2 separate regions of the Homo sapiens genome follow, and region 2 is linked to region 1. The links come from fine-mapping of genetic effects on gene expression. A gene starts in region 1. The other region holds a variant in brackets. All regions are shown on one strand. Distances are from middle to middle.

Evidence for each region. PIP is the estimated chance that this variant, and not a neighbour inherited with it, causes the effect.
Region 2: its variant is fine-mapped to the expression of ULK1 in whole blood (TOPMed, PIP 0.98).

Annotation. Positions count from the first base shown.
Region 1 is chr12:131,883,165-131,899,294 of GRCh38, reverse strand. ULK1 (unc-51 like autophagy activating kinase 1) reads right to left here and starts at 4,673. Exons shown (of 28, transcript NM_003565.4): 1 at 4,183-4,673; 2 at 3,602-3,694; 3 at 3,471-3,512. The coding sequence starts at 4,293. LOC124903059 (a long non-coding RNA gene) reads left to right here and starts at 5,137. Exons shown (of 2, transcript XR_007063538.1): 1 at 5,137-5,448; 2 at 5,720-6,237. RefSeq lists an enhancer at 1,692-2,489 and silencers at 2,857-2,916, 2,947-3,006, 2,977-3,271, 3,197-3,346, 4,414-4,923 and 1 more.
Region 2 is chr12:131,918,592-131,928,469 of GRCh38, reverse strand. ULK1 (unc-51 like autophagy activating kinase 1) reads right to left here. Exons shown (of 28, transcript NM_003565.4): 23 at 9,789-9,878; 24 at 9,086-9,258; 25 at 8,880-8,998; 26 at 8,334-8,491; 27 at 7,235-7,370; 28 at 5,320-7,164. The coding sequence ends at 7,109. PUS1-AS1 (PUS1 antisense RNA 1) reads left to right here and starts at 115. Exons shown (of 2, transcript XR_001749414.2): 1 at 115-507; 2 at 3,704-3,958. RefSeq lists enhancers at 2,839-3,715, 3,817-4,136, 4,297-4,356, 4,767-4,846. The variant C/G (reference allele first, on the strand shown) is at 6,349.

The DNA.
Region 1 (16,130 bases):
ATCGCTTGAACCCGGGAGGCGGAGATTGCAGTGAGTCGAGATGGTGCCACTGCACTCCAGCCTGGGCAACAAGAGTGAAACTACATCTCAGAAAAACGTATATATAAAATATAGAAATATATCAGGCAGGCTGGGCATGGTGGCTCATGCCTGTAATCCCAGCACTTTGGGAGGTCGAAGGTGAGGTCCGGCGTTCAAGATCAGCCTGGCCAATGTGGCGAAAATTGTATAAATTTTTTAATACAAAAATTAGCCGGGCGTGGTGGCAGGTGCCTGTAATCCCAGCTACTCGGGAGGCTGAGGCAGGAGAATCGCTTGAACCAGGGAGGTGGAGGTTGCAGTGAGCCAAGATCGCGCCACTGCACTCCAGCCTGGGTGACAAAGAGAAGCTCCATCTCAAAAAAAAAAAGAAATACACTATACAAAGGACAGGTGGTATTTCTAACATTCCCATGCTCGGATAGGGAAGCTCATTCATCACCAATGTAAAAGAAAACCGCCCAGGCATGGTGGTTCACTCCTGCAATCCCACCACTTTGGGAGGCCGAGGTGGGTGGATCATGAGGTCAGTTCGAGACCAGGCTGGCCAACATGGTGAAACCGTGTCTCTACTGCAAATACAAAAATTAGCCTAGCGTGGTGGCAGGCGCCTGTAATCCCAGCTACTCGGGAGGCTGAGGCAGGAGGATCGCTTGGACCCAGGAGGCGGAGGTTGCAGTGAGGGGAGATTGTGTCACTGCACTCCAGCCTGGGCGACAAGAGCAAAACTCAGTCTCAAAAAAAAAAGAAAAGCAAAACCATAAGAGATGTCATTTTCTACTTCTCACATGAGCCACGATGGAAACCTCTGAGAGCCACCCTCCTGGCAAGGACCTAGGGAGACACATGCTTGGAGACAGGCTGAGAGACCAGTGGCATTGCCTCTCCGGAGGTCCATTTGGCAATAGCTACCCAAATTAAAAACCAGCATCCCTCCTACCCAAGGATTCTACTTCTAAGGATCCAGTCACAACCACCCTGATGTACCAGCATCCCAAAATAACCTCATGTCCCACCTACAGGGCCTTGGTGAAATCAGTTATGGAATCTCGGGCAACAGGCACGCCATGGCTGAAAATCACCACGGCAGACCCAATCAGGCCAGCAGCTAGCACCTCCACGATGGCTCCTCCAACCCGAGAGCACTCCCTCCTCCCTCACACAGCCCTCACAGCCCGTGCTTTCTGCTTCACAGAGGAAGAAATAGGACCGCAAACTAAAGAAGCTGTGTGTGCACATATGGCAGCCAGGACTGGGCCCCTCATCAGCGTCAGCCTGGCTCTCGACCACTGTGCTTACAGATGGTGACCTCTAACAGAGAGGGGTAAACTTTTTGAGGGTTTTGTTTTGTGTTTTTGAGACAGGGTTACACTCTGCTGCCCAGGCTGGAACGCGGTGGCAACATCACGGCTCACTGCAGCCTTAAACTCCTGGGTTTAATCAATCCTCCTACAACCTTTATAGTAGCTGAGACATGCCACTATGCCTGGCTAATTTTTTTTCTTTTTTTTTCTTTTTTTTAGAGAGAGCGAGTCTTGCTATGTTGCCCAGGCTGGTCTGTCTTGGCCTCCCACAGTGCTAGGGTCACAGGTGTGATCCACTGTGCCTGGCCGAGGGGTAAACTTTCTGATATGGATTGAGCCAGCACAGAACCTTCCCCAAGCTCTACTCTTTTAGAGACAGGGCCTCGCTCAGTCGCCCAGGCTGGATGGAGTGCAAACTATACTCTTAAGTGACAAAATTCACGGCGCAGAGAGGTGGGTGTGGCGGGGAAGGACACCGGTGAACACATCGCCTTGTAAGGATGGCTGTCCCCGGTGGCCCGGAAACAACTAAAGCAGGGGCCTGAGAACGGAGGGCAGCGGGACTCGATCGGGGGCAGGACTCTAGCCTCGACCGCACTCCCTCCCGTAATGTTTGAGGATTTTCTTTTATCACCCAAATCGTTCATTGTCCATTTTTAAAACCCAGTTATTTTTTCCTGGGTTTGGGTGCCTGCCTCAAACATTGCCTTACCGACACAGGGCAACAATCCCCACGCCTGTGGGGGCGAGGGCAGGCTAAGCTGCAGCTCCAGCAGAGCCCGGTGCCCGGAGACAGGAGCGCCTGCAGCTGGCGGCTCCAAGTGCTTCCTGAGTAGAGAAAGCCGCAGAGTTGCCAACACTGGAGGAAGTGGCAGATGCCCACAACCAGGTGTGTGTGGCTGACTGGGATGGAGCTGGGCCTGGGGATACTGGTCCCGGGTCTGCGGGGGTCGTGCGGACAGTCACAGGGCCTGGCCTGGAGATGCCCAGGACTGGACCTGGGGAGCCCTGGAGGGGAGCAGCAGGCAGTGTAGCCCAGGGTGGAGGGGGAGTCCCTCAGAGTCGCTGCCTGGCCAGGGACAGCTGTCCACTCCTTGCTGGCTCCCAGAGCCATGACGCATGTGCAGGCTGTGGTCCAGGCAGGAGGCTTCCAAACATGGAGAGGATGAGGAAAGAGGAGGAAGGGAGGGAGGAAAGCAGGGAGAAAAGGGGTGGGAAGAGGGCGGGAAAAGCAGCAGGAGGGATGGCCCAGCTCCAGGACACAGTGTGCCTGGGTTTCCAGGTACTCGCTGGACCTGGGCCCCCCCCACCCGGCACCTTGTGACAAGCCTCGGTCCCCAAGGCCACAGCAAAGCTCTGAGAGGCGGACGGAGGAGGCCACCAAAACACGGCCTGCCAGCCCTTCCCTCAGCCAGGGGCTGGGCCCTGGGCTCAGTAAACAGGTCACAGAGCCATTAGTCAGCACTTTGGCGGGGCGGATCTCCCGCCTCAGGTTCCTGGTCCCCAGGACGGCACCCTGGCTCCCACAGCCCCAGCCCTGCCTGCCCTGGGCCCCGGGACACGGAGGCAGCACGAAAGCCAGCTGGTCCCACCGCTTGCTTCTTGGGGCCAGCCGGGCCCGAGGTCATCTCCTTGGCCAGCCAGCGGCAGCCGCCTGTGCCCCGGCCCGGCCCTGACTGCCAGCGAGCAGGAGTCTCCGGCGGCCCCTCCCCCGCCCCGTCTGACGCAGAGCGAGGCCGGCCAATGCCGGCCGCAGGAGCAATGTCAACAAACACACGGCCTAGACAGGTGGGCCAGGCCGGCAGTGCTGCCAGGGCCAGCCGGGGACGCCGGACTCAGGCAGGGCCCCTAGGACTGACGCCCGGCGGGGAGGGGATGCCTGTTCAGGAGAACTCAGCCCTGCCCTGGGGCGCCCTGCGGCCCAGACACCCCCTCCCCGGTCTCACAGCTGGGGAAGTCACAGCAAGAGCCAGCACCAGCCCAGGCCTGGACCCAGGGTGGAGTCTCCAGGGGCCCAGTAGACCCCAGCCTGGACAGGCTCAACACCAGTGCTCACCAGGGGATCCAGCACCTGGGGCCACAGTCCCCCAGCCCGGTCCCCAGCAGACCGCAGCCCAGAGGCCTTACCTGGAAGTCGTACAGGGCCACGATGTTTTCATGTTTCAGTTCCTAGGACAGAAACCCAAGTTTGTTATCAGTGTGGGGAGGGGGGCTTGCCCACGCCCACGCCCACGCCCCCTCCCCCAGCACTGGCTCACCTTCAGGATTTTGATTTCCTTCCCCAGCAGCGTCTGAGACTTGGCGAGGTTCTTCTTGTTAATGCACTTGACGGCGACCTCCAAATCGTGCTTCTGAAAGCCAAACGTGCACCTTCAAGGCCAGGGCTGCCCCTCGCAGGCCTCCCCCAGACCCCAGTCCACACAGGTGGGGCCCTGAGATGATCCCGGTTGGGAATCCCGGGACTGGAAGGCCGAGTGGGGAGCCAGGTTGAGGATCGCGCTGGGGGTCCTGGGGTAGGGATCCAGCCTCGAAAGCCGGCTGTGGGACCAGGTTGCGGGGTGTCCCGGGGTGAGGGTTTGGACAGGAAAGTCGGGCTGGGGGTCTCGGAGTGAGGATCTGGGCTGGAAAGCCCGGCAGCGGATCTCGGGGCGGGAGTCTGAACTGGAAAGTCGGGCTGGGGGTCGCGGGGTGGGGATCCTGGGGTGGGGGTCGGCCTGGAAAGTCGAGTGGGGCTCTCGGGAGGCGTGGGGGGGTCCCGGGACAGGCGGGGAATCTCGGGGCGGGGATGCAGGGGCAGGGGATCCTGGGCGGGGGATCCCGGGCCGGACGGGGGCCTCACCTCGCGGTGGCGGCCCTTGAAGACCACCGCGAAGGCGCCGTGGCCGATCAGGTCCTTGCGGGAGAACTCGAACTTGCCCACGGTCTCTGTGCCGCCGCGGCCGGGCTCCATGGCGCAGGCGGGCCGGGGGCGCGGGGCGGGGGGTGGCGGGCCAAGGCGCGGGGGACTCAGGCGGAGGCGCGGGCCGGGGCGGGCGGGCCGGGGGCGCGGGGCCGGGGGCGCGGGGCCGGGCGAGGGCGCATCTCCGGGGCCGCGCGCCCCATCGGGCAGGCCGGGGCCGGGTCCCAGCCCCGCGGGCCAGGCGGGGTCCGAGGGTCGCGCTCCCTCCGGCGCCTGTGCCACGGCACTCTTCCCGGGCTGCTAATCCGAATCCGGATCCGACTCCGACTCCGACTCCGGCTCCAACTAGGGCCCGGGCTCGGCCCCAACGGAGAAACAAAAGAGCCGCGGCGCCCGGGCCTCAGAGCCTGAGACGCCCGCGCAGCCGCACTGCGCGCCGGGCCGGGAGGCGGGATGAGGGCGGGGCCTGCGGGACGGAGCGGCAGAGCCGGGCGTGACGAACAGACGGGGGGCGGGGAATGGGGCGGGGCCTGTCGGGGGGGTGGGCGGCTGGGCCGGGCCATTGCGGGGCCGGGTGGGCTGGGAGTGGGTGGGGCCAACAGCGGACCCGCCCCGGTGAGAGCAGAGAGGCGCGCTGACCCGGGAGCGGGCCACGGGGCTCAGTGTTGATTCCTTGCCCCACTCCCTTCCACGCCCCTTCCCCGCCCCTTCCCCGCCCCGCTTCTTCTCTGCTCCCCTCCCTCCTTTCCCCTCTCTCCGTCCTCCTCCCTCCTTTTCCCCTTCCCATCACCTCTCTCCCTCCCTGCCCCCTCCCTTCCGCCCCCTCCCATGCCTTCCCCCCCGCTCCCCTCCCGCCCCCACTGCCTGTTCTCCTCCCTCCTGTCCCCCCTCCCTGTTCCCCTCCCTCCCCTTCCCTGTTCCCCTCCTTCCCGCTCCCTGTTCCCCTTCTACAGGAGAATGGAGAACAGGCGTGGGAAATGTTCCCAAAACGGGGGACTGCGCAGAATTAATTCTTAGAAATAGAATGGCTGAGTTAGAGGTTAGGCATTTAAAGTTGAGTTCCATAATGCCAAATTGCAAAAAAAAAAAAAAAAATTGTAGACCAAAAAGTTGTCACCCAAACCAACGACATAGCCCATAAATCCGCTGGGGAGGAAAGGTTAGCTAGATGGGCTGCGCATCGGTCCTGTGGAACACTGCACAGAGGTAAATATACCTGTGCTCAAGGGTGAGTTCTCCAAAGATTATAATTAAGTAAAAGCAAAATATGGAACAGGGCACTGTACTGTCTGTCGTTTTAAGAAAGCGGTAGGATTGGGATGTGTGTGTGTGTGAAACGCCTGTAATGTGTACATGGTCGTTCCTAACTATAATGACAGCTAACTCATCACTTAGGCCAAGCAGCGCACTTTCCAGCGATTAGTGCATCCATTCAATGATTCCACGAGGCACTTGCTGTTATGTCCCTGTTTTACAGATGAGGAAATCAAGGCGGAGAAAAGTTGGAGAATGTGTCCAAAGTCACACCGCCGGCAGCCAAAAGAGCCCGGGGGCTCACTCACAGAAGACACAGCCAACAGCGATTGCTCTGGGAGAGAGGACCGGGGAAAAGTTAGTGCTGTTCACCGTACACGTTGCGCGCTAGTTGGAATGGCTTTCACCACGTGCAAGCACTGCTTTTGCAAATGCATGATTCTAAACAATGCTCACCAACCCAGCCTTCAGTACAGTCCTAAAGTAACAGCCCAGAAACACACACTTCAGCCAGGACCCTCCATGCTGCCTCCCAGAGCAGCCCAGCAGCTGGACAGCCTGATGCCCTGGGCTGGATCAGCAAGTCCTGGATGCCTTTTACCTGCACCCAGCTCATCCTCCAGGCCGCAGGACACACAGACTCCCGACCCTGGACTGGGGGCCAGAAGCCACCGAGCTGGAAGGGACAAGAGGTCTCCTGGCCCACCATGTTTGTTTTCCCAATAAAGAGGTTCCACAGTGCCCCGTAGTCAGCCATAGCATTCACTCACATCCTGGAGTGCCTGCTGCACACCGGCCTGCCCAGAGAGCACACGCTGCGAGGTAAGTGCTGCAGTTGACACAGTGAGAACAAGACCCGCCTGCAGGAGCTCCCAGCGCTTAGGGGTGGGGGACAAGAAGAGCAAAGATTGCACCACCCGTGGCAAAATTGCAAGAGAAAAATGAGTGAACAGGTGGCTACGTGCTGAGGTGATCAGGGCAGACCGTGAGGGCCGAGATTGCTAGAGATGGCGAAGCCTGTACTCCTGGAAAGTACTCAGGGAACCCCAGCCCAGCCCACCCTGGCCTGGAAAGCCAAGCTAACGGGGTCTTCACCCCAAACTCAAAGAAATACCCAGGAAGAGTTTAGGAGAGGGTGGGATGGCAAGATGGGATTTGCATTTGGAAACCGTTACTAGGCCCACCGAGGAAGGACATGTTTCTTTTTTGTTTTGTGCGGTCTTATTAAATTTTTTATTCTTTTTATAACTTTTAGGTTCAGTGGTGTGTGGACAGGTTTGTTATACAGGTAAATTATGTTTCACAGGGTTTGATGAACGGATTATTTCATCACCCAGGTAATAAGCAGAGTACCCGATAAGTAGTTTTTTGATCCTCTCTCCCTCCTCCCACCCTCCCACCCTCAAGTGGGACCTGGTGTCTCTTGTTCCCTTCTTTGTGTCCTATTTTCTTTTTTTTTTTTTTGAGACGGAGTCTCGCTCTTTCGCCCAGGCTGGAGTGCAGTGGCGCTATCTTGGCTCACTGCAAGCTCCGCCTCCCAGGTTCACGCCTTTCTCCTGCCTCAGCCTCCCGATTAGCTGGAACTACAGGCGCCCGCCACCACACCTGGCTAATTTTTTGTATTTTTAGTAGAGATGAGGTTTCACCGTGTTAGCCAGGATGGTCTCGATCTCCTGACCTCGTGATCTGCCCACCTCGGCCTCCCAAAGTGCTGGGATTATAGGTGTGAGCCACAGCGCCCGGCCCGTATATTTTCAGTGTTTACCTCCCACTTATAAGTGAGAACATGTAGTGTTTGGTTTTCTGTTCCTGTGTTAGTTCGCTTAGGATGATGGCCTCCAACTCCATCCATGTTGCTGCAGAGGACATGATCTCATTCTTTTTTATGGCTGTGTAGTATTTCATGGTGTATATGTACCACAGTTTCTTTTTTTTGAGACAGGGTCTCACTCTGTCACCCAGGCTGGAGTGCAGTGGCTCAATCGCCACTCACTGCAGCCTTGACTACCTGGGTTTAGGTGATCCTCCTGCCTCACCCTCCCAAGCAGCTGGGATTACAGGTGCACGCCACCACACCCTACTAATTTTTGTATTTTTTGTAGAGATGAGATCTCACTATGTTGCCCAGGCTAGTCTCAAACTCCTGGGCCCAAGTGATCCTCCCGCCTCGGCCTCCCAAAGTGTTAGGATTATAGACGTAAGCCATCGGCCCAGCGTGGTGGCTTACGCCTGTAATCCCAACACTTTGGGAGGCCGAGGCGGGCTGATCACCTGAGGTCAGGAGTTCGAGACCAGCCTTGGCCAACATGGAGAAACCTTGTCTCTACTAAAAATACAAAATTAGCCGGGTGTTGTGGTGCATGCCTGTAATCCCAGCTACTCGGGAGGCTGAGGCAGGAGAATCGCTTGAACCCGGGAGGCGGAGGTTGCGGTGAGCCGAGATCGCACCATTGCACTCCAGCCTGGGAGACAAGAGTGAAACTCCATCTCAAAATAAATAAATAAATAAATAAATAAAATTAAACAACAGACATAAGCCACCACACCCAGCCTCAGAATGTGTTTGTTTTTGTTTTTTTTTGTTTTGTTTTTTTTGAGGCAGAGTTTCGCTCTTTTCACCCAGGCTGGAGTGCCATGGCGCGATCTCGGCTCATTGCAACCTCCACCTCCCTGGTTCAAGTGATTCTCCTGCCTCAGCCTCCCAAGTAGCTGGGATTACAGGCACACGCCACCACACCTGGCTAATTTTTGTATTTTTAGTAGAGATGGGGTTTCACCATGTTGGTCAGGCTGGTCTTGAACACCTGACCTCATGATCCACCTGCCTCGGCCTCCCAAAGTGCTGGGACTGCAGGCGTGAGCCACCGCGCCCGGCCCATCTTAACCATTTTTAAGTGCACAGTTCAGTGACATTAAGTACAATCACATTGTTGTGGGCCGGCCGTAGTGGCAAACGCCTGTAATCCCAGCACTTTGGGATGCCGAGGCAGGAGAATTGCTTGAGCCCAGGAGTTGGAGACCAGCCTGGGCAACATGGTGAAACCCTGTCTCTATAAAAACATTGTTGAGGCGGGGCGTGGTGGCTCACGCCTCTAATCCCAACACTTTGGGAGGCCGAGACGGGCGGATCACTAGGTCAGGAGATGGAGACCATCCTGGCTAACACAGTGAAACCCTGTCTCTACTAAAAATACAAAAAATTAGCCGGGCGTGGTGGCGGACACCTGTAGTCCCAGCTACTCAGGAGGCTGAGGCAGGAGAATGGCATGAACCCGGGAGGTGGAGCTTGCAGTGAGCCAAGATCGCGCCACTGCACTCCAGCCTGGGTGACAGAGCGAGACTCTGTCTCAAAAAAAAAAAAAATTGTTGTATAACCGTCACCACCATCCAGCTCCAGAACTCATTCAGCTTCCAAAACAAACTCTGTCCCCGTTAAAGACTCATTCCTCATTCCCCTCCTTCAGCCCCTGGCACCCACTCTTCTACTTTCTTTTTTGTTTGTTTTTTGTTTTTGTTTTTGTTTTTTGAGACAGAGTCTTGCTCTGTCACCCAGGCTGGAGTGCAGTGGCATGATCTTGGCTCACTGCAACCTCCGACTCCCGGGTTCAAGCAATTCTCCTGCCTCAGCGTCCCAAGTAGCTGGGATTACAGGTGTGTGCCATCACACCCGGCTAATTTTTGTATTTTTAGTAGAGATGGGGTCTCGCTATGTTGGCCAGGCTGGTCTCAAACTCCTGAGCTCAGGTGATCCGCCCGCCTTGGCCTCCCAAAGTGCTGGGATTACAGGCGTGAGCCATGGAGGCTGGCCCTCTCTTCTGCTTTTGTCTCTGTGGGTTTGACTCCTCTGAAAACCTCATATAAGTAGAATCCTATAGTATTTGCGCTTTTGTGACTGGCTTCTTTCACTGAGTATGATGTTCTCCAGGTTCATCTATGTTGTAATGTTGGGGCTCAGTAATTGATATCCCAAAATAGGGCACCTTCACACGCTGAACTGAAGAAAGAAACGCTCAAGGTCTCTCCAGCCTCCCCCCACTTCTCCCAAAGTCAAAGCTTCTTTATCTGCCTAAGATCCGGACCCGCCAAGGAGAACAATTGTTTATTCCTTCCCCTCCCTGGAAGAGCAAGAATGTGGCTACACCTGAACAGATCCTTTCCCTCAGAGAACCACCTACGAGTTAACCCTTTTCCTTCAGAGAGAACCATCTAGGAGTTACTCTCTCTTCCCAGACACATTCATTCTCCCGGTGTATCCCCTCAACAGAGCTGCCCTTCTCCCCACCTCCCATAACCTGCTTTGCTTCTGACCTCCCTGAGGGTGTGGGCAGTCGCTCTGTGATTCTCCCTGAATGCACATGTTCCATAAACATGCACACTCCTTCTCACCTGCTTTTTGCGAGTTCATTTTTCCACAGTCCTTCCAGGGCTGAGCTGTGGCCTTTACGGTCCTGTGTGTCAGAACATTCTTCCTTTTCAAGGCAGGATGATACCCATTGTATGGATAGACCACATTCTCTTTCTCCTTTTTCTTTTTCTTTTTTTTGAGACAGGATGTCACTCTGTAGCCCAGGCTGGAGTGCAGTGGCAGGAGCACAGCTCGCTGCAACCTCCGCCTCCTGGGCTCAGGTGAACCTCCCACCTCTCAGCCTCCCAAGTACCTGGGACGCGCCTTCACACCCAGCTAATTTTTTCATATTTTGTAGAAACAAGGTCTCACTGTGTTGCCCAGGCTGGTCTCCAACTCCTGGGTTCAAGCAATCCACCTGCCTCAGCCTTCCAAAGTGCTAGGATTCCAGGCGTGAGCCTCCTTGAGCTGGACATTTTCTTTGTCCATTTACCCATGGATGGACGCATGGTTATTTCCACCTTTGACTACCGCGAATCATGCTGCTGCGAATGTGGGTACACAGATAACTGTTTGGGTCCCTACCTTCACTTCTTTGGAATATATACCCAGGAGTGGAATTGCTGGATTGTAGGGAATGTTATTTAATTTCTTCAGGAACCTCCACACCATTTTCCACAAGGTCCACACCATGTTACCTTCCCAACAGCAGCACCCACGCGTTCCCTTTCTCCACAGCCAACACTTGTTCTTTTCCCTTAGTTGCTTTCAACAGTACCCATGGGTGTGAACTGATATCTCATTGTGTGTGTTTTTTTTTTTGAGACAGAGTTGTGGTCTTGTCGCCAAGGCTGAAGTGCAGTGGCACAATCTCAGCTCACTGCAACCTCTGCCTCCCAGGTTCAAGTGATTCTCCTGCCTCAGCCTCCTGAGTAGCTGGGATTACAGGTGCACGCCATGCCCGGCTAAATTTTTTTTTTTCTTTTTTTTTTTGAGACAGAGCTTTGCTCTTGTTGCCCAGGCTGGAGTGCAATGAAGTGATCTCAGCTCATTGCAACCTCTGCCTCTCGGGTTCAAGCAATTCTCCTGCCTCAGCTTCCCGAGTAGCTGGTACTATAGGTGTGCACCACCACGCCCCGCTAATTTTTGTATTTTTAGTAGAAATGGGGTTTCACCATGTTGGCCACCATGGTCTCTATCTCTTGACCTTGCAATCTGCCTGCCTCGGCCTCCCAAAGTGCTGGGATTACAGGCATGAGCCACCACGCCTGGAGCTAATTTTTGTTTGGTTTTGGGTTTTTTTTAGAGACTGAGTCTCGCTCTGTCACCCAGGCTGGAGTGCAGTGGCACAATCTCGGCTCACTGCAACCTCTGCCTCCCGGGTTCAAGCAATTCTCCTGCCTCAGCCTCCTGAGTACCTGGGATTACAGGCACAGGCCGCCACACCCGGCGAATCTTTTTTGTATTTTAGTAGAGACGGGGTTTCACTGTGTTGCCTAGGCTGGTGTTGAACTCCTGAGCTCAGGCAGTCTGCCTACCTTGGCCTCCCAAAGTGCTGGGATTACAGGCATGAGCCACCGTGCCCAGCCTACATTTTTTATTTTTAGTAGAGATGGGGTTTCACAATGTTGGCCAGGCTGGTCTCAGTGATCCTCCTGACCTCAAGTGATCCACCCGCCTTAGCCTCCCAAAGTGCTAGGATTACAGGCGTGAGCCACTGAACCCGGCCTGACTGTGGTTTTGATTTGCATTTCTCTAACCACTAGTGATGTTGAACATCTTTGTGAGGACTAAACTCATATTTTTTATCTTGCCCAAATTCTTATCTAAGGGGTCTAGAGAGTCATGCCCTACAAACCATAAATTCTCATCAGATGGGTTTTATTTAATCCTATATATTGTGACTTAATTTTTTTTTTTTTAGACAGAGTCTCTCTCTGTCACTCAGGCTGGAGTGGAGTGGCACAATCTCAGCTCACTGCAACTTCTGCCTCCCAGGTTCAAGTGATTCTCCTGCCTCAGCCTCCCAAGTAGCTGGGATTACAGGCACCTGCCACCACACCCAGCTAATTTTTGTATTGTTAGTAGAGACAGGGTTTCTCCATGTTGGTCAGGCTGGTCTCGAACTCTCAACCTCAGGTGATCCACCTGCCTCAGCCTCCCAAAGGGCTGGGATTACAGGCATGAGCCACCACGCCCCACCCAGTTTGTGTATTTTTAGTAGAGAGGGGGTTTCTCCATGTTGGCCAGGCTGGTCTCGAACTCCTGACCTCAGGTGATCTGCCACCTTGGCCTCCCAAAGTGCTGGGATTACAGGTGTGAGCCACTGCGCTGGTAGCCTTTTTTTTTTTTTTTTTGAGACTGAGTCTCGCTCTGTTGCCCAGGCTGCAGTGCAGTGGCGCGATCTCGGCTCACTGCAAGCTCCGCCTCCCAGGTTCACGCCATTCTCCTGCCTCAGCCTCCTGAGTAGCTGGGACTATAGGTACCTGCCACCATGCCTGGCTAATTTTTTTTTTTTTTTTGAGATGGAGTCTCCCTCTGTCACCCAGGCTGGAGTGCAGTGGCGCGATCTCAGCTCACTGCAAGCTCCGCCTCCCGGGTTCACACCATTCTCCTCCTCAGCCTCCCCAGTAGCCGGGACTACAGGCGCCTGCCACCACACCTGGCTAATTTTTTGTATTTTTTTTTTTTTTTTTTTTTTTGAGACGGAGTCTCGCTCTGTCGCCCAGGCTGGAGTGCAGTGGCGCGATCTCGGCTCACTGCAAGCTCCACCTCCCGGGTTCACGCCATTCTCCTGCCTCAGCCTCCCACGTAGCTGGGACTACAGGTGCCCGCCACCACGCCCGGCTAATTTTTTTGTATTTTTTAGTAGAGACGGGGTTTCACTGTGTTAGCTAGGATGGTCTCGATCTCCTGACCTCGTGATCCACCCGCCTTGGCCTCCCAAAGTGCTGGGATTGCAGGCGTGAGCCACCGCGCCCGGCCTGGTTAGCCATATTTTGAAGGCTTTGCAAAGCCCTCCTTTGTGGGGAAAAATTTGCATCTGTGAAGAATCTCTATTAACATAGCTAGATCTTTTTCTTTCAGGCCCTCCCAATCCTAAAGAGATTAACTTAAAGTCTAGCATAGGAATTATTTGTCACTTACTGTCTCTCTAAGGGCAGCCATTGTAAGACCTCAAAGAAACTTTAGCCTCCACAATCTTTTCTCTTAACCTGAACATTTCCTTTCTATGGATCCCAGGTTTTTAGACAAACTCAACCAATTGTCAACCAGAAAATGTTTAAATTTACCTATAGCCTGGAGGCCTGCCCACCACCCCTTTGAGTTGTCTCGCCCTTCTGGACCAAACAGTGTCTTTCTTTAATGTATTTGATTGATGTCTCCTGTCTCCCTAAAATGTATAAAACCAAGCTGCGCCCCGACCACCTTGGGCATGTGTTCCCGGGACCCCCTGAGGCTGTGTCACAGGTCAGGGTCACTCATGTTTGGCTCAGAATAAATCTCTTCAAATATTTTACAGATTTTGACTCTTTTTGTCAACATTTGCAGGTGCTTACTGGCCACTTGTGTATCTCCTTTGGAGAAATGCCTATTCAAGTGCTTTGCCCATTTTGTAATCTGGTGGCTTGATTTTTTGCTGTTGAGTTGTGGGAGTTGGTTATGTATTCTGAATGTTAACTGCCTGCTTTTGTAAATAAAGTTTTCCTGAAGCCATGGTCTGCGTTTATTGGTTGTTTCTGCCTTCTTTAGTGCTACTGACATCGCCTTTGTAAAATTATGACTGAGACAGTGAAAGATCTAACTTAACCGACTCCATCTTCCTTCTAACCTCCAAGCTGTCTTTGTTCATTCCTGGGCGTAGGCTGAACTAACTTTGGGAGAAACTTAGCTTGTAGTTTACAGTTTAAACAAAGACGGTAACAGCCCTTTCCCAAAGCAAACCTCCTTCTTGCCTAACATTAGCCACAGGATTAGAAATTACGGTTTAGGAGCCATGCAGCTGGAGGCTACAAGATTCTGACCCTCCCTAAACTGCTCCTAAGATCAGCGCTTGAGATATTTTGCAGACCCTGCACTTGATGGATCAGCTGGCACCACCCAGATGGATAAACAGGCTCGTCAGATCTTGTGGCCCCCACCCAGGAACTGACTCAGTGCAAGAGGAAAGACAGCTTTGACTTGCTATGATTTCATCTCTGACCAATCAGCATCCTGGCTCACTGGCTTCCCCCCACCAACCAAGTTATCCTTAAAAACTCTACTCCCTTGCAGGATGCGGGTGGCTCACACCTGTAATCCCAGCACTTTGCGAGGCTGAAGCAGGTGTATCACGAGGTCAGGAGATCGAGACCATCCTGACTAACACGGTGAAACCCCCTCTCTACTAAAAATACAAAAAATTAGCTGGGCATGGTAGCATATGCCTGTAATCCCAGCCACTAGGGAGGCTGAGGCAGGAGAATTGCTTGAACCTGGGAGGTGGAAGTTGCAGTGCTCCGAGATTGTGCCACTGAACTCCAGCCTGGCAACAGAGCTAGAGTCTGTCTCCAAAAAAAAAAAAAAATCAACTTTATCGGGGGGTATAATCCACATACAATTAAAGGTTCACATTCTAAGAGTTCAGTTCAGTGAGTTTTGACAAACGTACAAACCCATTTATCCACTCCCAATCAACACAGAGCATTTCTATCGCCCAAAAGTTATCTCCCGCTCTTTCCCATTCAAACCCCACCCCAGGCCAAAAGTGATCTGATTTCAAGGCTATCAATGAGTTTGCATCTTCTAGAATCCCACAGAAGTGGACTCTGCAGCCGGGTCTCTTCGTTTGCGTCTTGGTTTGGGCCCATGTGCACTCATCCCTCTGGCTGTTTCCCGTGGCTGAGCGAGATCCATCCTTTCCCGTGACTGAGTGGGGGGGCCATCCTCTCCCTTGGCTGAGTGGGATCCATCCTTTCCCGTGGCTGAGTGGGGGGCCATCCTTTCCCGTGGCTGAGTGGGGGTCATCCTTTCTGTGGCTGAATGGAGGGCCATCCTTTGCCGTGGCTGAGTGGGGGTCATCCTTTCTGTGGCTGAATGGAGGTCCATCCTTTGCCGTGGCTGAGTGGGGGTCATCCTTTCTGTGGCTGAATGGAGGGCCTTCCTTTCCCATGGCTGAGTCGGTGGGGGGGCATCCTCTCCCGTGGCTGAATAGGGGGATCCATCCTTTCCTGTGACTGAGTGGGGGTCATCCTTTCTGTGGCTGGAGGGCCATCCTTTCCCGTGGCAGAGTGAGGGGCCATCCTTTCCTGTGGCGGAGTGAGGGGACATCCTGTCCCATGGCTGAGCAGGATCCATCCTTCCCGTGGCTGAGTGGGGGTCCATCCTCTCCCGTGGGTGAGCGGGCGTCCATCCTCTCTCGTGGCTGAGTGGGGGCCATCCTTTTCCATGGCTGAGTGAGGGCCATCCTTTCATGTGGCTGAGAGGGATCCATCCTTTCCTGTGGCTGAGCGGGATCCATTCTTTCCCGTGGCTGAGTGGAGGCCCATCCTTAGGTACCTCCAGTGAGCAGCCTACATCCTTGGAGGATGGAAAATTGATTTGCCTCTTCACAGACTTCTCTGGTTCTAGCTTTGGGCTATTTATGCGTGAAGCTGCTAAGAACATTTCCCAAATGTGATTTGTATAAATACCTAGGAGTAGGATTCCTAGTGTGAGGTCAGAGTCTGTCTAGCAGCATAAAAACAACCAAAAGATTTTCTGAGCCTCAGGGCACATGGGTGGGGCCCAGAGAGCACCCAGGACCGAAGCTGCCCAGGACCTCCCTCAAGCGCCCCAGGCTGTCCCCACTCCCACTGCTAGGAGCCTGCTCCAGGGCCAAGGGTGAGGCCCACCCTGCCTGGTGGCTCCCTCATGCCCCTCCGGCACCCCCAGGAGTGAGGGTGGGCTGCCAAGCTTCCCTTCCTCCACTTCCTTCTCTAACATGCCCACCCCTCCTTTTTTTTAAACAAAGAGGCTGGAGGCCCTAGGATCCAGCCTGGTGGCTCCGAGATCTACCTAAAGCGCCCTAGTGGAGGACAAAGATTTTTTCAGGAGATCAGAACTCTGACTTCTGCAGCTCTCTGGGGCTGGGCTGTGGAATGGAAGCAGCTTGGGACAGGAAGCGGGTGTGGCTCCTCCTAAAGGAGCTACACGTTGTTTTGTTCTCTTTTTTGACAGACTCTCCCTGTGTCACCAGGCTGGAGTGAGTTACATGATCTCGGCTCACTGCAGCCTTGACCTCCCACACTCCAGCGATCCTCCCACCTCA
Region 2 (9,878 bases), 32 kb before region 1:
TTGGCCAGGATGGTCTCGATATCCTGACCTCGTGATCCGCCTTCCTCGGCCTCCCAAAGTGCTGGGATTACAAGCGTGAGCCACGCGCCCGGCCTTTTTTTTTTTTTTTTTTTAAGAGACCGGCCCACTATGTTGCCCAGGCAGATCTCGAACTGCTGAGCTCAAGCGATCCTCCCGCCTCCCCTCCCGAAGTGCTAGGATTCCAGGTGTGGCCACCGCGCCCACCACTTCCTTGCCTCCTCTCCCAAGCTTGCCCTCCTGTCTCCTGCTTTCCCTTAGACAAACTCATATGATCCTGGGCCCGCGCAGATAATCTGGCATAATCTCAAAATCCTTAATCCCATCTCTGGGGCCACAATTCAACCAACTACAAGCTTGAATTTGGGGAATGAGCCATGGAGGTGTTGGGGAGAGCGTGTTCCTGGCAGTGCAAGAGCCAGGAGGCAGGAGACAGCCGTCTGCAGCAGCCCCACTCCCGCCCTCCAGGGGCTGTGCCTTCTCCTACAGGTGAGGACTCAGTGGGGCCGGGGCACTGTGCCCACCTGGAGTATGCAGGTAGAGAAACCACAGGGCTGCGTGATGACTGGAGGGACTGATAGGAAAAGAGGACCAAGGGGTCCGGGGCCAGGTTGTGTGGGGCCTCGTGGGCCACCGAGGACTTGGCATTGGCTATGAGTGAGATGGGAGCCCCAGGGATCCAATCTGACACCCCTTCCCAAGGGGCACTCAGTGGGCTGCGAGTGGCTTGTGAGGAGCTGGTGGCCGAGGCAGGAAGGGGAGGCAGGAGGGAGATGCAATTGTCCAGCTGGGAGGGTGGCTCAGCTGTATAAGTGACCCCCCAGGAGGGCACCCCTCCACCAGCCCAGGCTCCAGGACTGAGGCGGGGGGGTTTGGACAGGCACCCAGGGGGGCCACAGTTCTGTGGCAGTGTGGGCACCAAGGCCTGGTCCCCCTGGCTTGGAGCCCCGCCCCCACATGGCCAGTGTGTGCAGGGATGAGGTCCTTCCTGTACTGCCATGGCTTCCCCTGGGCCCACCCTCACCACCTGGCTCTGGCACAAGGACCTTTACAGCAGCTTTATTTACCACTGCCCAAACGCAGAAACAACCGATATGTCGGCAGGTGAATGGAAAAACTGTGGTACCTACAGACAATGGAATACTATGCAGCTCTAAAAAGAAATGAGGCCAGGCACAGTGGCTCATGCCCGTAATCCTAACGCTTTGGGAGGCCAGGAGGGCGGATCACTTAAGGCCAGGAGTTTGAGACCAGCCTGGCCAGCGTGGCAAAACCCGTCTCTAAAAATACAAAAATCTCTCTCCCTCTCCCTCTCGCTCTCGCTCTCGCTCTCGCTCTCCCTCCCCCTCCCCCTCTCGCTCTCGCTCTCCCCACGGTCTCCCTCTCCCTCTCTTTCCACGGTCTCCCTCTGATGCCGAGCGGAAGCTGGACGGTACTGCTGCCATCTCGGCTCACTGCAACCTCCCTGCCTGATTCTCCTGCCTCAGCCTGCCGAGTGCCTGCGATTGCAGGCGCGCGCCGCCACGCCTGACTGGTTTTCCTATTTTTTTGGTGGAGATGGGGTTTCGCTGTGTTGGCGGGGCTGGTCTCCAGCTCCTAACCGCGAGTGATCCGCCAGCCTCCGCCTCCCGAGGCGCCGGGATTGCAGACGGGAGTCTCGTTCACTCAGTGCTCAATGGTGCCCAGGCTGGAGTGCAGTGGCGTGATCTCGGCTCGCTACAACCTCCACCTCCCACCCGCCTGCCTTGGCCCCCCCAAAGTGCTGAGATTGCAGCCTCTGCCCGGCCGCCACCCCGTCTGGGAAGTGAGGAGCTTCTCTGCCTGGCCGCCCATCGTCTGGGATGTGAGGAGCCCCTCTGCCTGGCTGCCCAGTCTGGAAAGTGAGGAGCGTCTCTGCCCGGCCGCCCATCGTCTGAGATGTGGGGAGCACCTCTGCCCTGCCGCCCCGTCTGGGATGCGAGGAGCGTCTCTGCCCGGCTGCCCCGTCTGAGAAGTGAGGAGCCCCTCTGCCTGCCAACCGCCCCGTCTGGGAAGTGAGGAGCGTCTCCGCCCGGCAGCCACCCCGTCCTGGAGGGAGGTGGGGGTCAGCCCCCACCAGGCCAGCCACCCCGTCAGGGAGGTGAGGGGCGCCTCTGCCCGGCCGCCCCTACTGGGAAGTGAGGAGCCCCCTCTGCCCGGCCACCACCCCGTCTGGGAGGTGTACCCAACAGCTCATTGAGAACGGGCCATGATGACAATGGCGGTTTTGTGGAATACAAAGGGGGGAAGGTGGGGAAAAGATTGAGAAATCAGATGGTTGCCGTGTCTGTGTAGAAAGAGGTAGACATGGGAGACTTTTCATTTTGTTCTGTACTAAGAAAAATTCTTCTGCCTTGGGATCCTGTTGATCTGTGACCTTACCCCCAACCCTGTGCTCTCTGAAACATGTGCTGTGTCCACTCAGGGTTAAATGGATTAAGGGCGGTGCAAGATGTGCTTTGTTAAACAGATGCTTGAAGGCAGCATGCTCGTTAAGAGTCATCACCACTCCCTAATCTCAAGTACCCAGGGACACAAACACTGCAGAAGGCCGCAGGGTCCTCTGCCTAGGAAAACCAGAGACCTTTGTTCACTTGTTTATCCGCTGACCTTCCCTCCACTATTGTCCTGTGACCCTGCCAAATCCCCCTCTGTGAGAAACACCCAAGAATGATCAATAAAAAATAATAATAAATAAATAAATAAATAAAAATACAAAAATTAGCCAGGCTGGGTGCAGTGGCTCACGCCTGTAATCCCAGCTACTCAGGAGACTGGGGCACAAAAGTCGCTTGAACCTTGGGAGGTGGAGGTTGCAGTGAGCCGAGTTCCCGCCACTGCACTCCAGCCCGGACAACATAGCGAGACTGTCTCAAAAAAAAAAAAAAAAAAAAAAAAAAAGGCCAGGCGTAGTGGCTCACGCCTGTAATCCCAGCACTTTGGGAGGCCGAGGCCTGCGGATCACGAGGTCAGGAGATCAAGACCATCCTGGCTAACATGGTGAAACCCCGTCTCTACTAAAAATACAAAAAAAAAATTAGCAGGATGTGGTGGCAGGCCCCTGTAGTCCCAGCTACTCGGGAGGCTGAGGCAGGAGACTGGCGTGAACCCGGGAGGCGGAGCTTGCAGTGAGCGGAGATCGCGCCACTGCACTCCAGCCTGGGCGACAGAGCGAGACTCCGTCTCAAAAAAAAAAAGGAAATGAGCTCCCAAGCCCTGGGCATAGTGTATGATTCCAACTACGGGACATTCTGAAACAAGAAAAACTACGAGGACAGGAAGACCGGGGCCAGCAGAGCTAGGCTGGGAGAGGGCAACAGGTGGAGCCCAGAGGACCTTAGGGTGATGTGTGGCGTGACACTTCTGCAAAGCCCAGTGTACATCGAGTGACCCCATGATGTGAACTATGGACTTCGGGTACTATGACAGAACCTGTAGTATTAGAAGTGTCCATGATTTTTAAAAATCTAAAATATGAATATTGGGTTCAAAAGCAGAGACAAAGGCACTGCACGAATGTGACGTGTTACTGACAGGGGAGAGGGCAGATCTCTCTGTACGTCCTACTCAATTTTCCTACAGATATAAAACTGCTCTAAAAAATGATATTAACACCAACAAAATTCCATGTTTGTAGTGACCGTCTGGGCATTTCTTTACGTTTCAGAAGTACCAGGAGGATCACGGCGCCCACAGCCTGGCAGCTGCTCCACCACACCTTCTCACTCGGTGCCGAGTGCAGCTGTTCCTGTCTGAGGAGGCTCAGTTTGGAAGCAGCCCCTCTTGGGACTCAGAAATCAAGGTCTCCGCCTTCCCCTTCCTCGAGAACACCAACCTCTCAATGAACTTTCACTTCTTACTGCGGTTAGCAGTTTTTAGCAAGTTATTTTTATCTAATAAAAACAATATATAGTTTTAAAAATGCGAACTCTACAGGAGTTCGAGACCAGCCTGGCCAACATGTGAAACCCCGTCTCTACTAAAAATACAAAAAACTAGCTGGGCGCATGCCCGTAGTCCCAGCTATTCGGGAGGCTGAGGCAGAAGAATTGCTTGAACCTGGGAGGCGGACGTTGCGGTGAGCCCAGATTGCAGCACTGCACTCCAGTCTGGGCTACAGAGTGAGATTTCAACTAAAAAAAAAAAAAAAAAAAAAAGTTGGGGCGTGGTGGCTCACGCCTGTAATCCCAGCACTTTGGGAGGATGAGGCAGGCAGGTGGATCACGGGGTCATATTGAGACCATCCTGGACAACATGGTGAAACTCCGTCTCTACTAAAAATACAAAAACTAGTTGGGCGTGGTGGCACTTGGCCTATAATCCCAGCTACTCGGGAGCCTGGAGAATCGCTTGAACCCGGGAGGCAGAGATTGCAGTGAGCCAAGATTGCACCACTACACTCCAGCCTGGGTGACAGAGGGAGACTGTCTCCAAAAAAAAAAAAAAAAAAAAACAGCCAGGTGCGCTGGCTCATGCCTGTAATCCCAGCACTTTGGAAGGTCAAGGCAGGCAGACCACAACATCAGATTGAAACTATCCTGGCTAATACGGTGAAACCCCGTCTCTACTAAAAACAAAACAAAACAAAAACAAAAATTAGCCGGGCTTGGTGGCTGTAGTCCCAGCTACTTGGGAGGCTGAGGCAGGAGAATCTCTTGAACCTGGGAGGCAGAGGTTTCAGTGAGCCGAGATCGCGCCACTGCACTCCGGCCTGAGCAACAGAGTTACTCATTTCAAATTAAAAAATAAATAAATAAATAAAAAGGGGGAGGCAAAGGATTTAGATGTTCCTCCAAAGACACACAAATGGCCGCCAAGTACCTGTGATGCTCCACGTCATGACCCCTCGGGGAAATGCAAATCAAAACCACACGGCAAGGCCTTGGAGGCCCAGCTGCTCAGAGGCTGCAGTGAACGAACCGTGTTGCTTCTTGGAAGTTAACACACAGCTCCACGTGGCCCCGAAAGCCCCTCCTAGGTGTATCCCCCAAAGGAGTCAAAGCAGGTGCCCAAAGCTATACCAAGGCAGATGCCCTGCCCTCTGGACTCTCTTCACCCTGTGCAGGACCCCCAGCCTGGCGGGAGAGGCTTCCTGTGGCGCAGGGGTTTGCATTGTCCCTCAACACATCCAGCTTCTGCCCTGGGGCTCTGCTCCCAGGGCTGTGTCGACCATTGTGGGCACCTGTGGAGGGGCCCTGGGCTCCTGCGCCTCGGCTGAGAAAGAAAATGACAGAACCCTGAAAACAGTGACAAGCCAACGAAGACAAGTGGTGACACCAGCCCAACAATTCCAAAGGTTTATTTCCTTACGTTGGTATTATACAATATAACGCAAAGGGCAGGAAATCACACAAAATTCGCTTTAAAATAGACAAAGGGTCCAGCACTATCAAGAGAACATTCAACCAGGGGCAGCAGTTGAGGCGCCCAGGACCTGCTTGGACACACGCACATGCGGCCGCGACGGAAGCAAGAGGACCAGGACACCGGGCAAGATCCCCGCAGTGCCAGCTTCCCAGGACTCAGGATTCCAGTCGGCCATGAAGCAATAAATACAAACATGCCCCACAAGGTGAGAATAAAGCCATCAAGGTGATGAGGAAGAAGTCACGGGGATTTTCTTCTTCTAAGTCCAAGCACAGTGGCAATATTTCAAGTATTGCAAAGAAAAACACACGTGTGTGTATTTTTGTCTGTTATGTGGCGTGTGACCCTGGAACCCCCCGCATGGGTCCATGGCCCCACCACTGCCTCCCGCAGACTGGGGACTCGTTCAAGTATCTACTGATTCAGGCAGGGCTAATCGAGGGCTGGGCAGACCAAGGGAGGCCCAGGCGGGGTTTGCAGGGCATGCCCGCCTGGAATCCGGAAGGCAGGCCTCTCTGCAGATGCCCTCCGTGGCCTTGGGCAAGGCAGAGGCAGGGAGGGACAGGGCTGTCATCAGGCCTACCCTGCCGAGGAGCTGACATCAAAACTGACTGTCAAAGCTGGACGGGGAGCTTTTGCACATGTTACTTTTTTCTTTGCATGAAGTATTCCCCTCATCTGCTTCCAGGCCCAGGTAGGGAGGGTGCTGGGCACACACCTGTCCTGCTGCTGCCACAGGGAGGGGCGGCAGGGGACAGCCACCAACACAGGTGTGCAAAGCAGCCTCACCCGCCCGCCACACGCCCCTGTGCCATCTGCCTCTAACCTGGCCCAGTCCTCGCCCTCCCAAAACCAATTCTTAAACACCTACAAGTTTTCTCCTTTAAAGAAAAAATGAGCTGCATAAAAATAAGACACGTTTTAGGAATAAAGTGTGAAAGATTA[C/G]AAGACGTATCCAGGGCTGAGAGAACACGGTGCCTCTGCTGCCGGTCCCCAGAGGAACGCTTGAACAAAGAACTGCCTCTGCCTCTAGCGCAGGGCCCCACTCCCCCCGGAGCCAGTTCTCCCGCTGAGGTCCAGACCTGGGCAGCAACGTGGTCCGGTGCTCGGGCTTGGGGGGCCCTGGCATGTGTCTGCATATGTGTATGTACAAACACCAGGCCACTGCCAGGAATCGCTGCCCAGCAGTCCCTGGTGAGGTCCAGGTTCTGTCTCTATATGCATAAAGTGCTTGGGTGATTGACAAAGCTGGGTGGGTATCTCGGAGGGAGAGGCTCCTGGAGACTGGGGGACGCCGAGGCCGCAGGCTCTTCCTGGGCACAGTGCCTGCTGACCTTCCCTAAGCAGGAGCTCGCTTTGGCTTTGAGTCGGCAGTGGTCTCAGGCCCTTGCCTGTCCTCCGGGGCTGCCCTGGGGCTAGAGGGTGGTGGCACCCACGCCTGCTGAGCCAGGCAGCTGGAGGGGCAGAAATTCTGTGATCCCCACCTGTAAAAGATGGGAGACACCCCCCAAGCTGTGTGGCTCCAGATGTGCTGGTTCTGCCCCGTGAGCTGCAGGGAGGCCGGCAGGCTGACTGTCCGTGGGGCCCAGGGCAGGGCTCAGCACCAGCGATCAGCGCCATGGGCTTGTCCCGAGGAGTCCAGCCAGCACACAGAGCCCACTCTGCAGGGCTCGGCAGGACGGGGGGCCCAGCCAGGCCAGAAAGGTCAGGCACAGATGCCAGTCAGCAGCGCCGAGAGTCTCCGCTCAATGCACAGCTTGCCTGTGGAGGGAGAGGGGAGTGTGAGGGAGACGCCCAGAGTCCCCAGCCCCCAGCCCAGCCGGGCACTCACACTTGGTGACGTTCTCGATGTCGGCCTGGTCCGAGAGCATGTGCTGCAGCCCCTCCAGGAGCAGCAGGGCCTTGTGGTAGCGTGGGACGCAGCCCTCACGGTGCTGGAACATCTCGTCCAGGGCAGCCGACTGCACCTGGGGGCGAGGACAGAGGCTGGACAGGGCCAGCTCACCCCACTCCCTCCCAGCAAGGGCTGCCCTGCACCCACGGCAGCGGCCCAGGGGTGGCAGATAGGCGCTCAGGGCAGTGACGTGGAGACATAAGTGCTGGTGCAGCCTGCTGTGCAGAGGGGATGGTCACAGGGCCAAGGGGAGACACTGCCTGGAACCAGATGACCCTGGCCAGCGCTCTCAGCCCGGCCCCAGGACAACAGAGTGCCCGCCGCTCAGTCAGTGTCATTACTGCTGCTGCCTGGCCTGCCTGGGCGGGAAGGGGGGCAGGAGGGAGGCTGACTTTTCCCATGTTTGTTCAGACTGGATTTTTACTACATGCTTAAATTTTCTTAAAAAAGGAGACTCAGGCACTCATGAGTTTTTGCCTGTAATACCCAGCATCTTGGGAAGCTGAGGCAAGAGGATCATTTCAGCCCAGGAGTTAGCGGCTACACTACACTTCAGCCTGGGCAACAGTGCAAGACCCTCTCTTAAAAAAAAACAACAAAAAATAAACGAAAAGGGGGCACCACCTCAGAGGCAGAGGGAGCTCTTCAGAGCCCAAGCAGGGAGTCTTTGCCCGTGGTACCACCTGAGTGCACCACACTTCCAGGCAGGTTGTCCGGGACCAGGTGCTGCTTCTGGAGGCTGACACCTGACTACGAGGCCTGAAGACCAAGTCTCTCATTTTACAATTGGGGAAACTGAGTCGGGGCGAGGCAGGATGCACATGGGCCACGGCACCCGTACAATCAAGGATGCACCCAGCCGAGCTGCGAGCGCCTGCAGGAGGCTGGGGGTGCATAATGCTGTCATTTCAAGACCTCCAGAAGTGACACCCCCCAAAGTCTCACCACGCTGTGGGCATCAAGGTCCCGTCCCAGTGGAGACGGCGGGCCTGGAAGTTCCTGGCCCCTGCCCCACTGGTGTCTGTCTGTCCCGTACCATCTGCACAGCGTGGCTGAAGATGAGCCTCTCGGCAGTGATGCTGTGAATGCGGTCCAGGAGCCGCTGCTTGTCCAGGAAGAAGCGCTGCAGCCGCAGGCTCAGGCCCTGGCAGGACACCACGCTGGCCTTGTACAGCTCATTCAGCCTGCGCACCACTGCAAAGGACGAGGGTGGTCAGCTCAGGGTGCAGCAGACACGGGGCAGGGCTGGAGTGGCCATGATCTGCCCGGTGCACTGAGCGAGCACGTCCCTCCCTCCCTGCCACAGCCCTGGCTCCCCGTGGCCTTGAGGGTGTGGCCAGGCTCCGCACCTTGTCCCGGGTGCCATCCGACCCCACGGCCTCTGTGCTCTGCATACTGGGCTCCAGGGTGCTGTCCGACCCAATGGCCTCTGTGCTCTGCACACTGGGCCAGGCCCCGGGGCCTCTGCACCTCTGCACAGGGGCCTACTCAAGCAGCCTCCCTGTTACCCTGTCACCCAGGCAGTTGCAAGGTGGGCTTCCTCCCCAACCCGGCATGTGGGCTGAGCGGTCGCAGCCCTCACCCTGCTTCACAGTGGACGACAGGCAGAGCTTGCCGGCCCGGATCTGGTCGATGGCACTTTGCAGGCCGGAGGACAGTAGCTCGGCCACCTTCAGGTACAGCACCAGCTGTTCCGCGAAGCTGGGGGCGGCAGGCAGATCAGAGGAGGCCGGTTGGTCCTGGCCCCCAGGCCACCACCCGCCCCACCCCAGCCCTGGCGGCACCCACCCCCATTCTCGGCTCAGCAGGCTGATCTGGTCGGCCACCACACTCTCCTGCAGCTGGTACTCAGGGCCCCCCGCCGCCTCACTGGCGCTGCCCTTCAGGGCTGCGATCTCCAGGACGTGCTGCACGAACAGCAGCGTGAAGCGCAGGCCACGCAGGATCTCCGTGTGCTCTTGCTGCAGGAAGCGGCCGTCAGGGCGGCAAGTGCTGCCCGGGCTTGGAAGGGGCTTGTCTCCCTTCAGACTCACCGATGACGCCTTGGGGAGGCAGGGCAGGGTACCCTCCCCTGCTGCAGCCCGGGCAGCTGGGATGTGCCACGCCCGACACCCCACACACCCTGCACCCCACACACCGTACACCCCACACAGCCGACACCCCACACACCCTGCACCCCACACACCCGACACCCCACACACCCTGCACCCCACACCCTGCACCCCACACACCCTGCACCCCACACACCCTGCACCCCACACACCCTACACCCCACACCCTACACCCCACACACCCGACACCCCACACACCCGACACCCCACACACCCGACACCCCACACCCCACACACTCTACACCCCACACACTACACCCCACACCCCCGACACCCCACACCCGACACCCCACACACCCTATACCCCACACACCCGACACCCCACACACCCCACACACCCTCCAGCCAGAATGGGAACCTTTGCTCACTCCAGCCCTCACCTCCATGAGGGTCTCCTCAGGGAGGTCGGGGGCCTCGAAGGTCACAGCCCCCTCCAGGTTCGCAGTAATGGGGTCGGCAAAGCTGCAGCC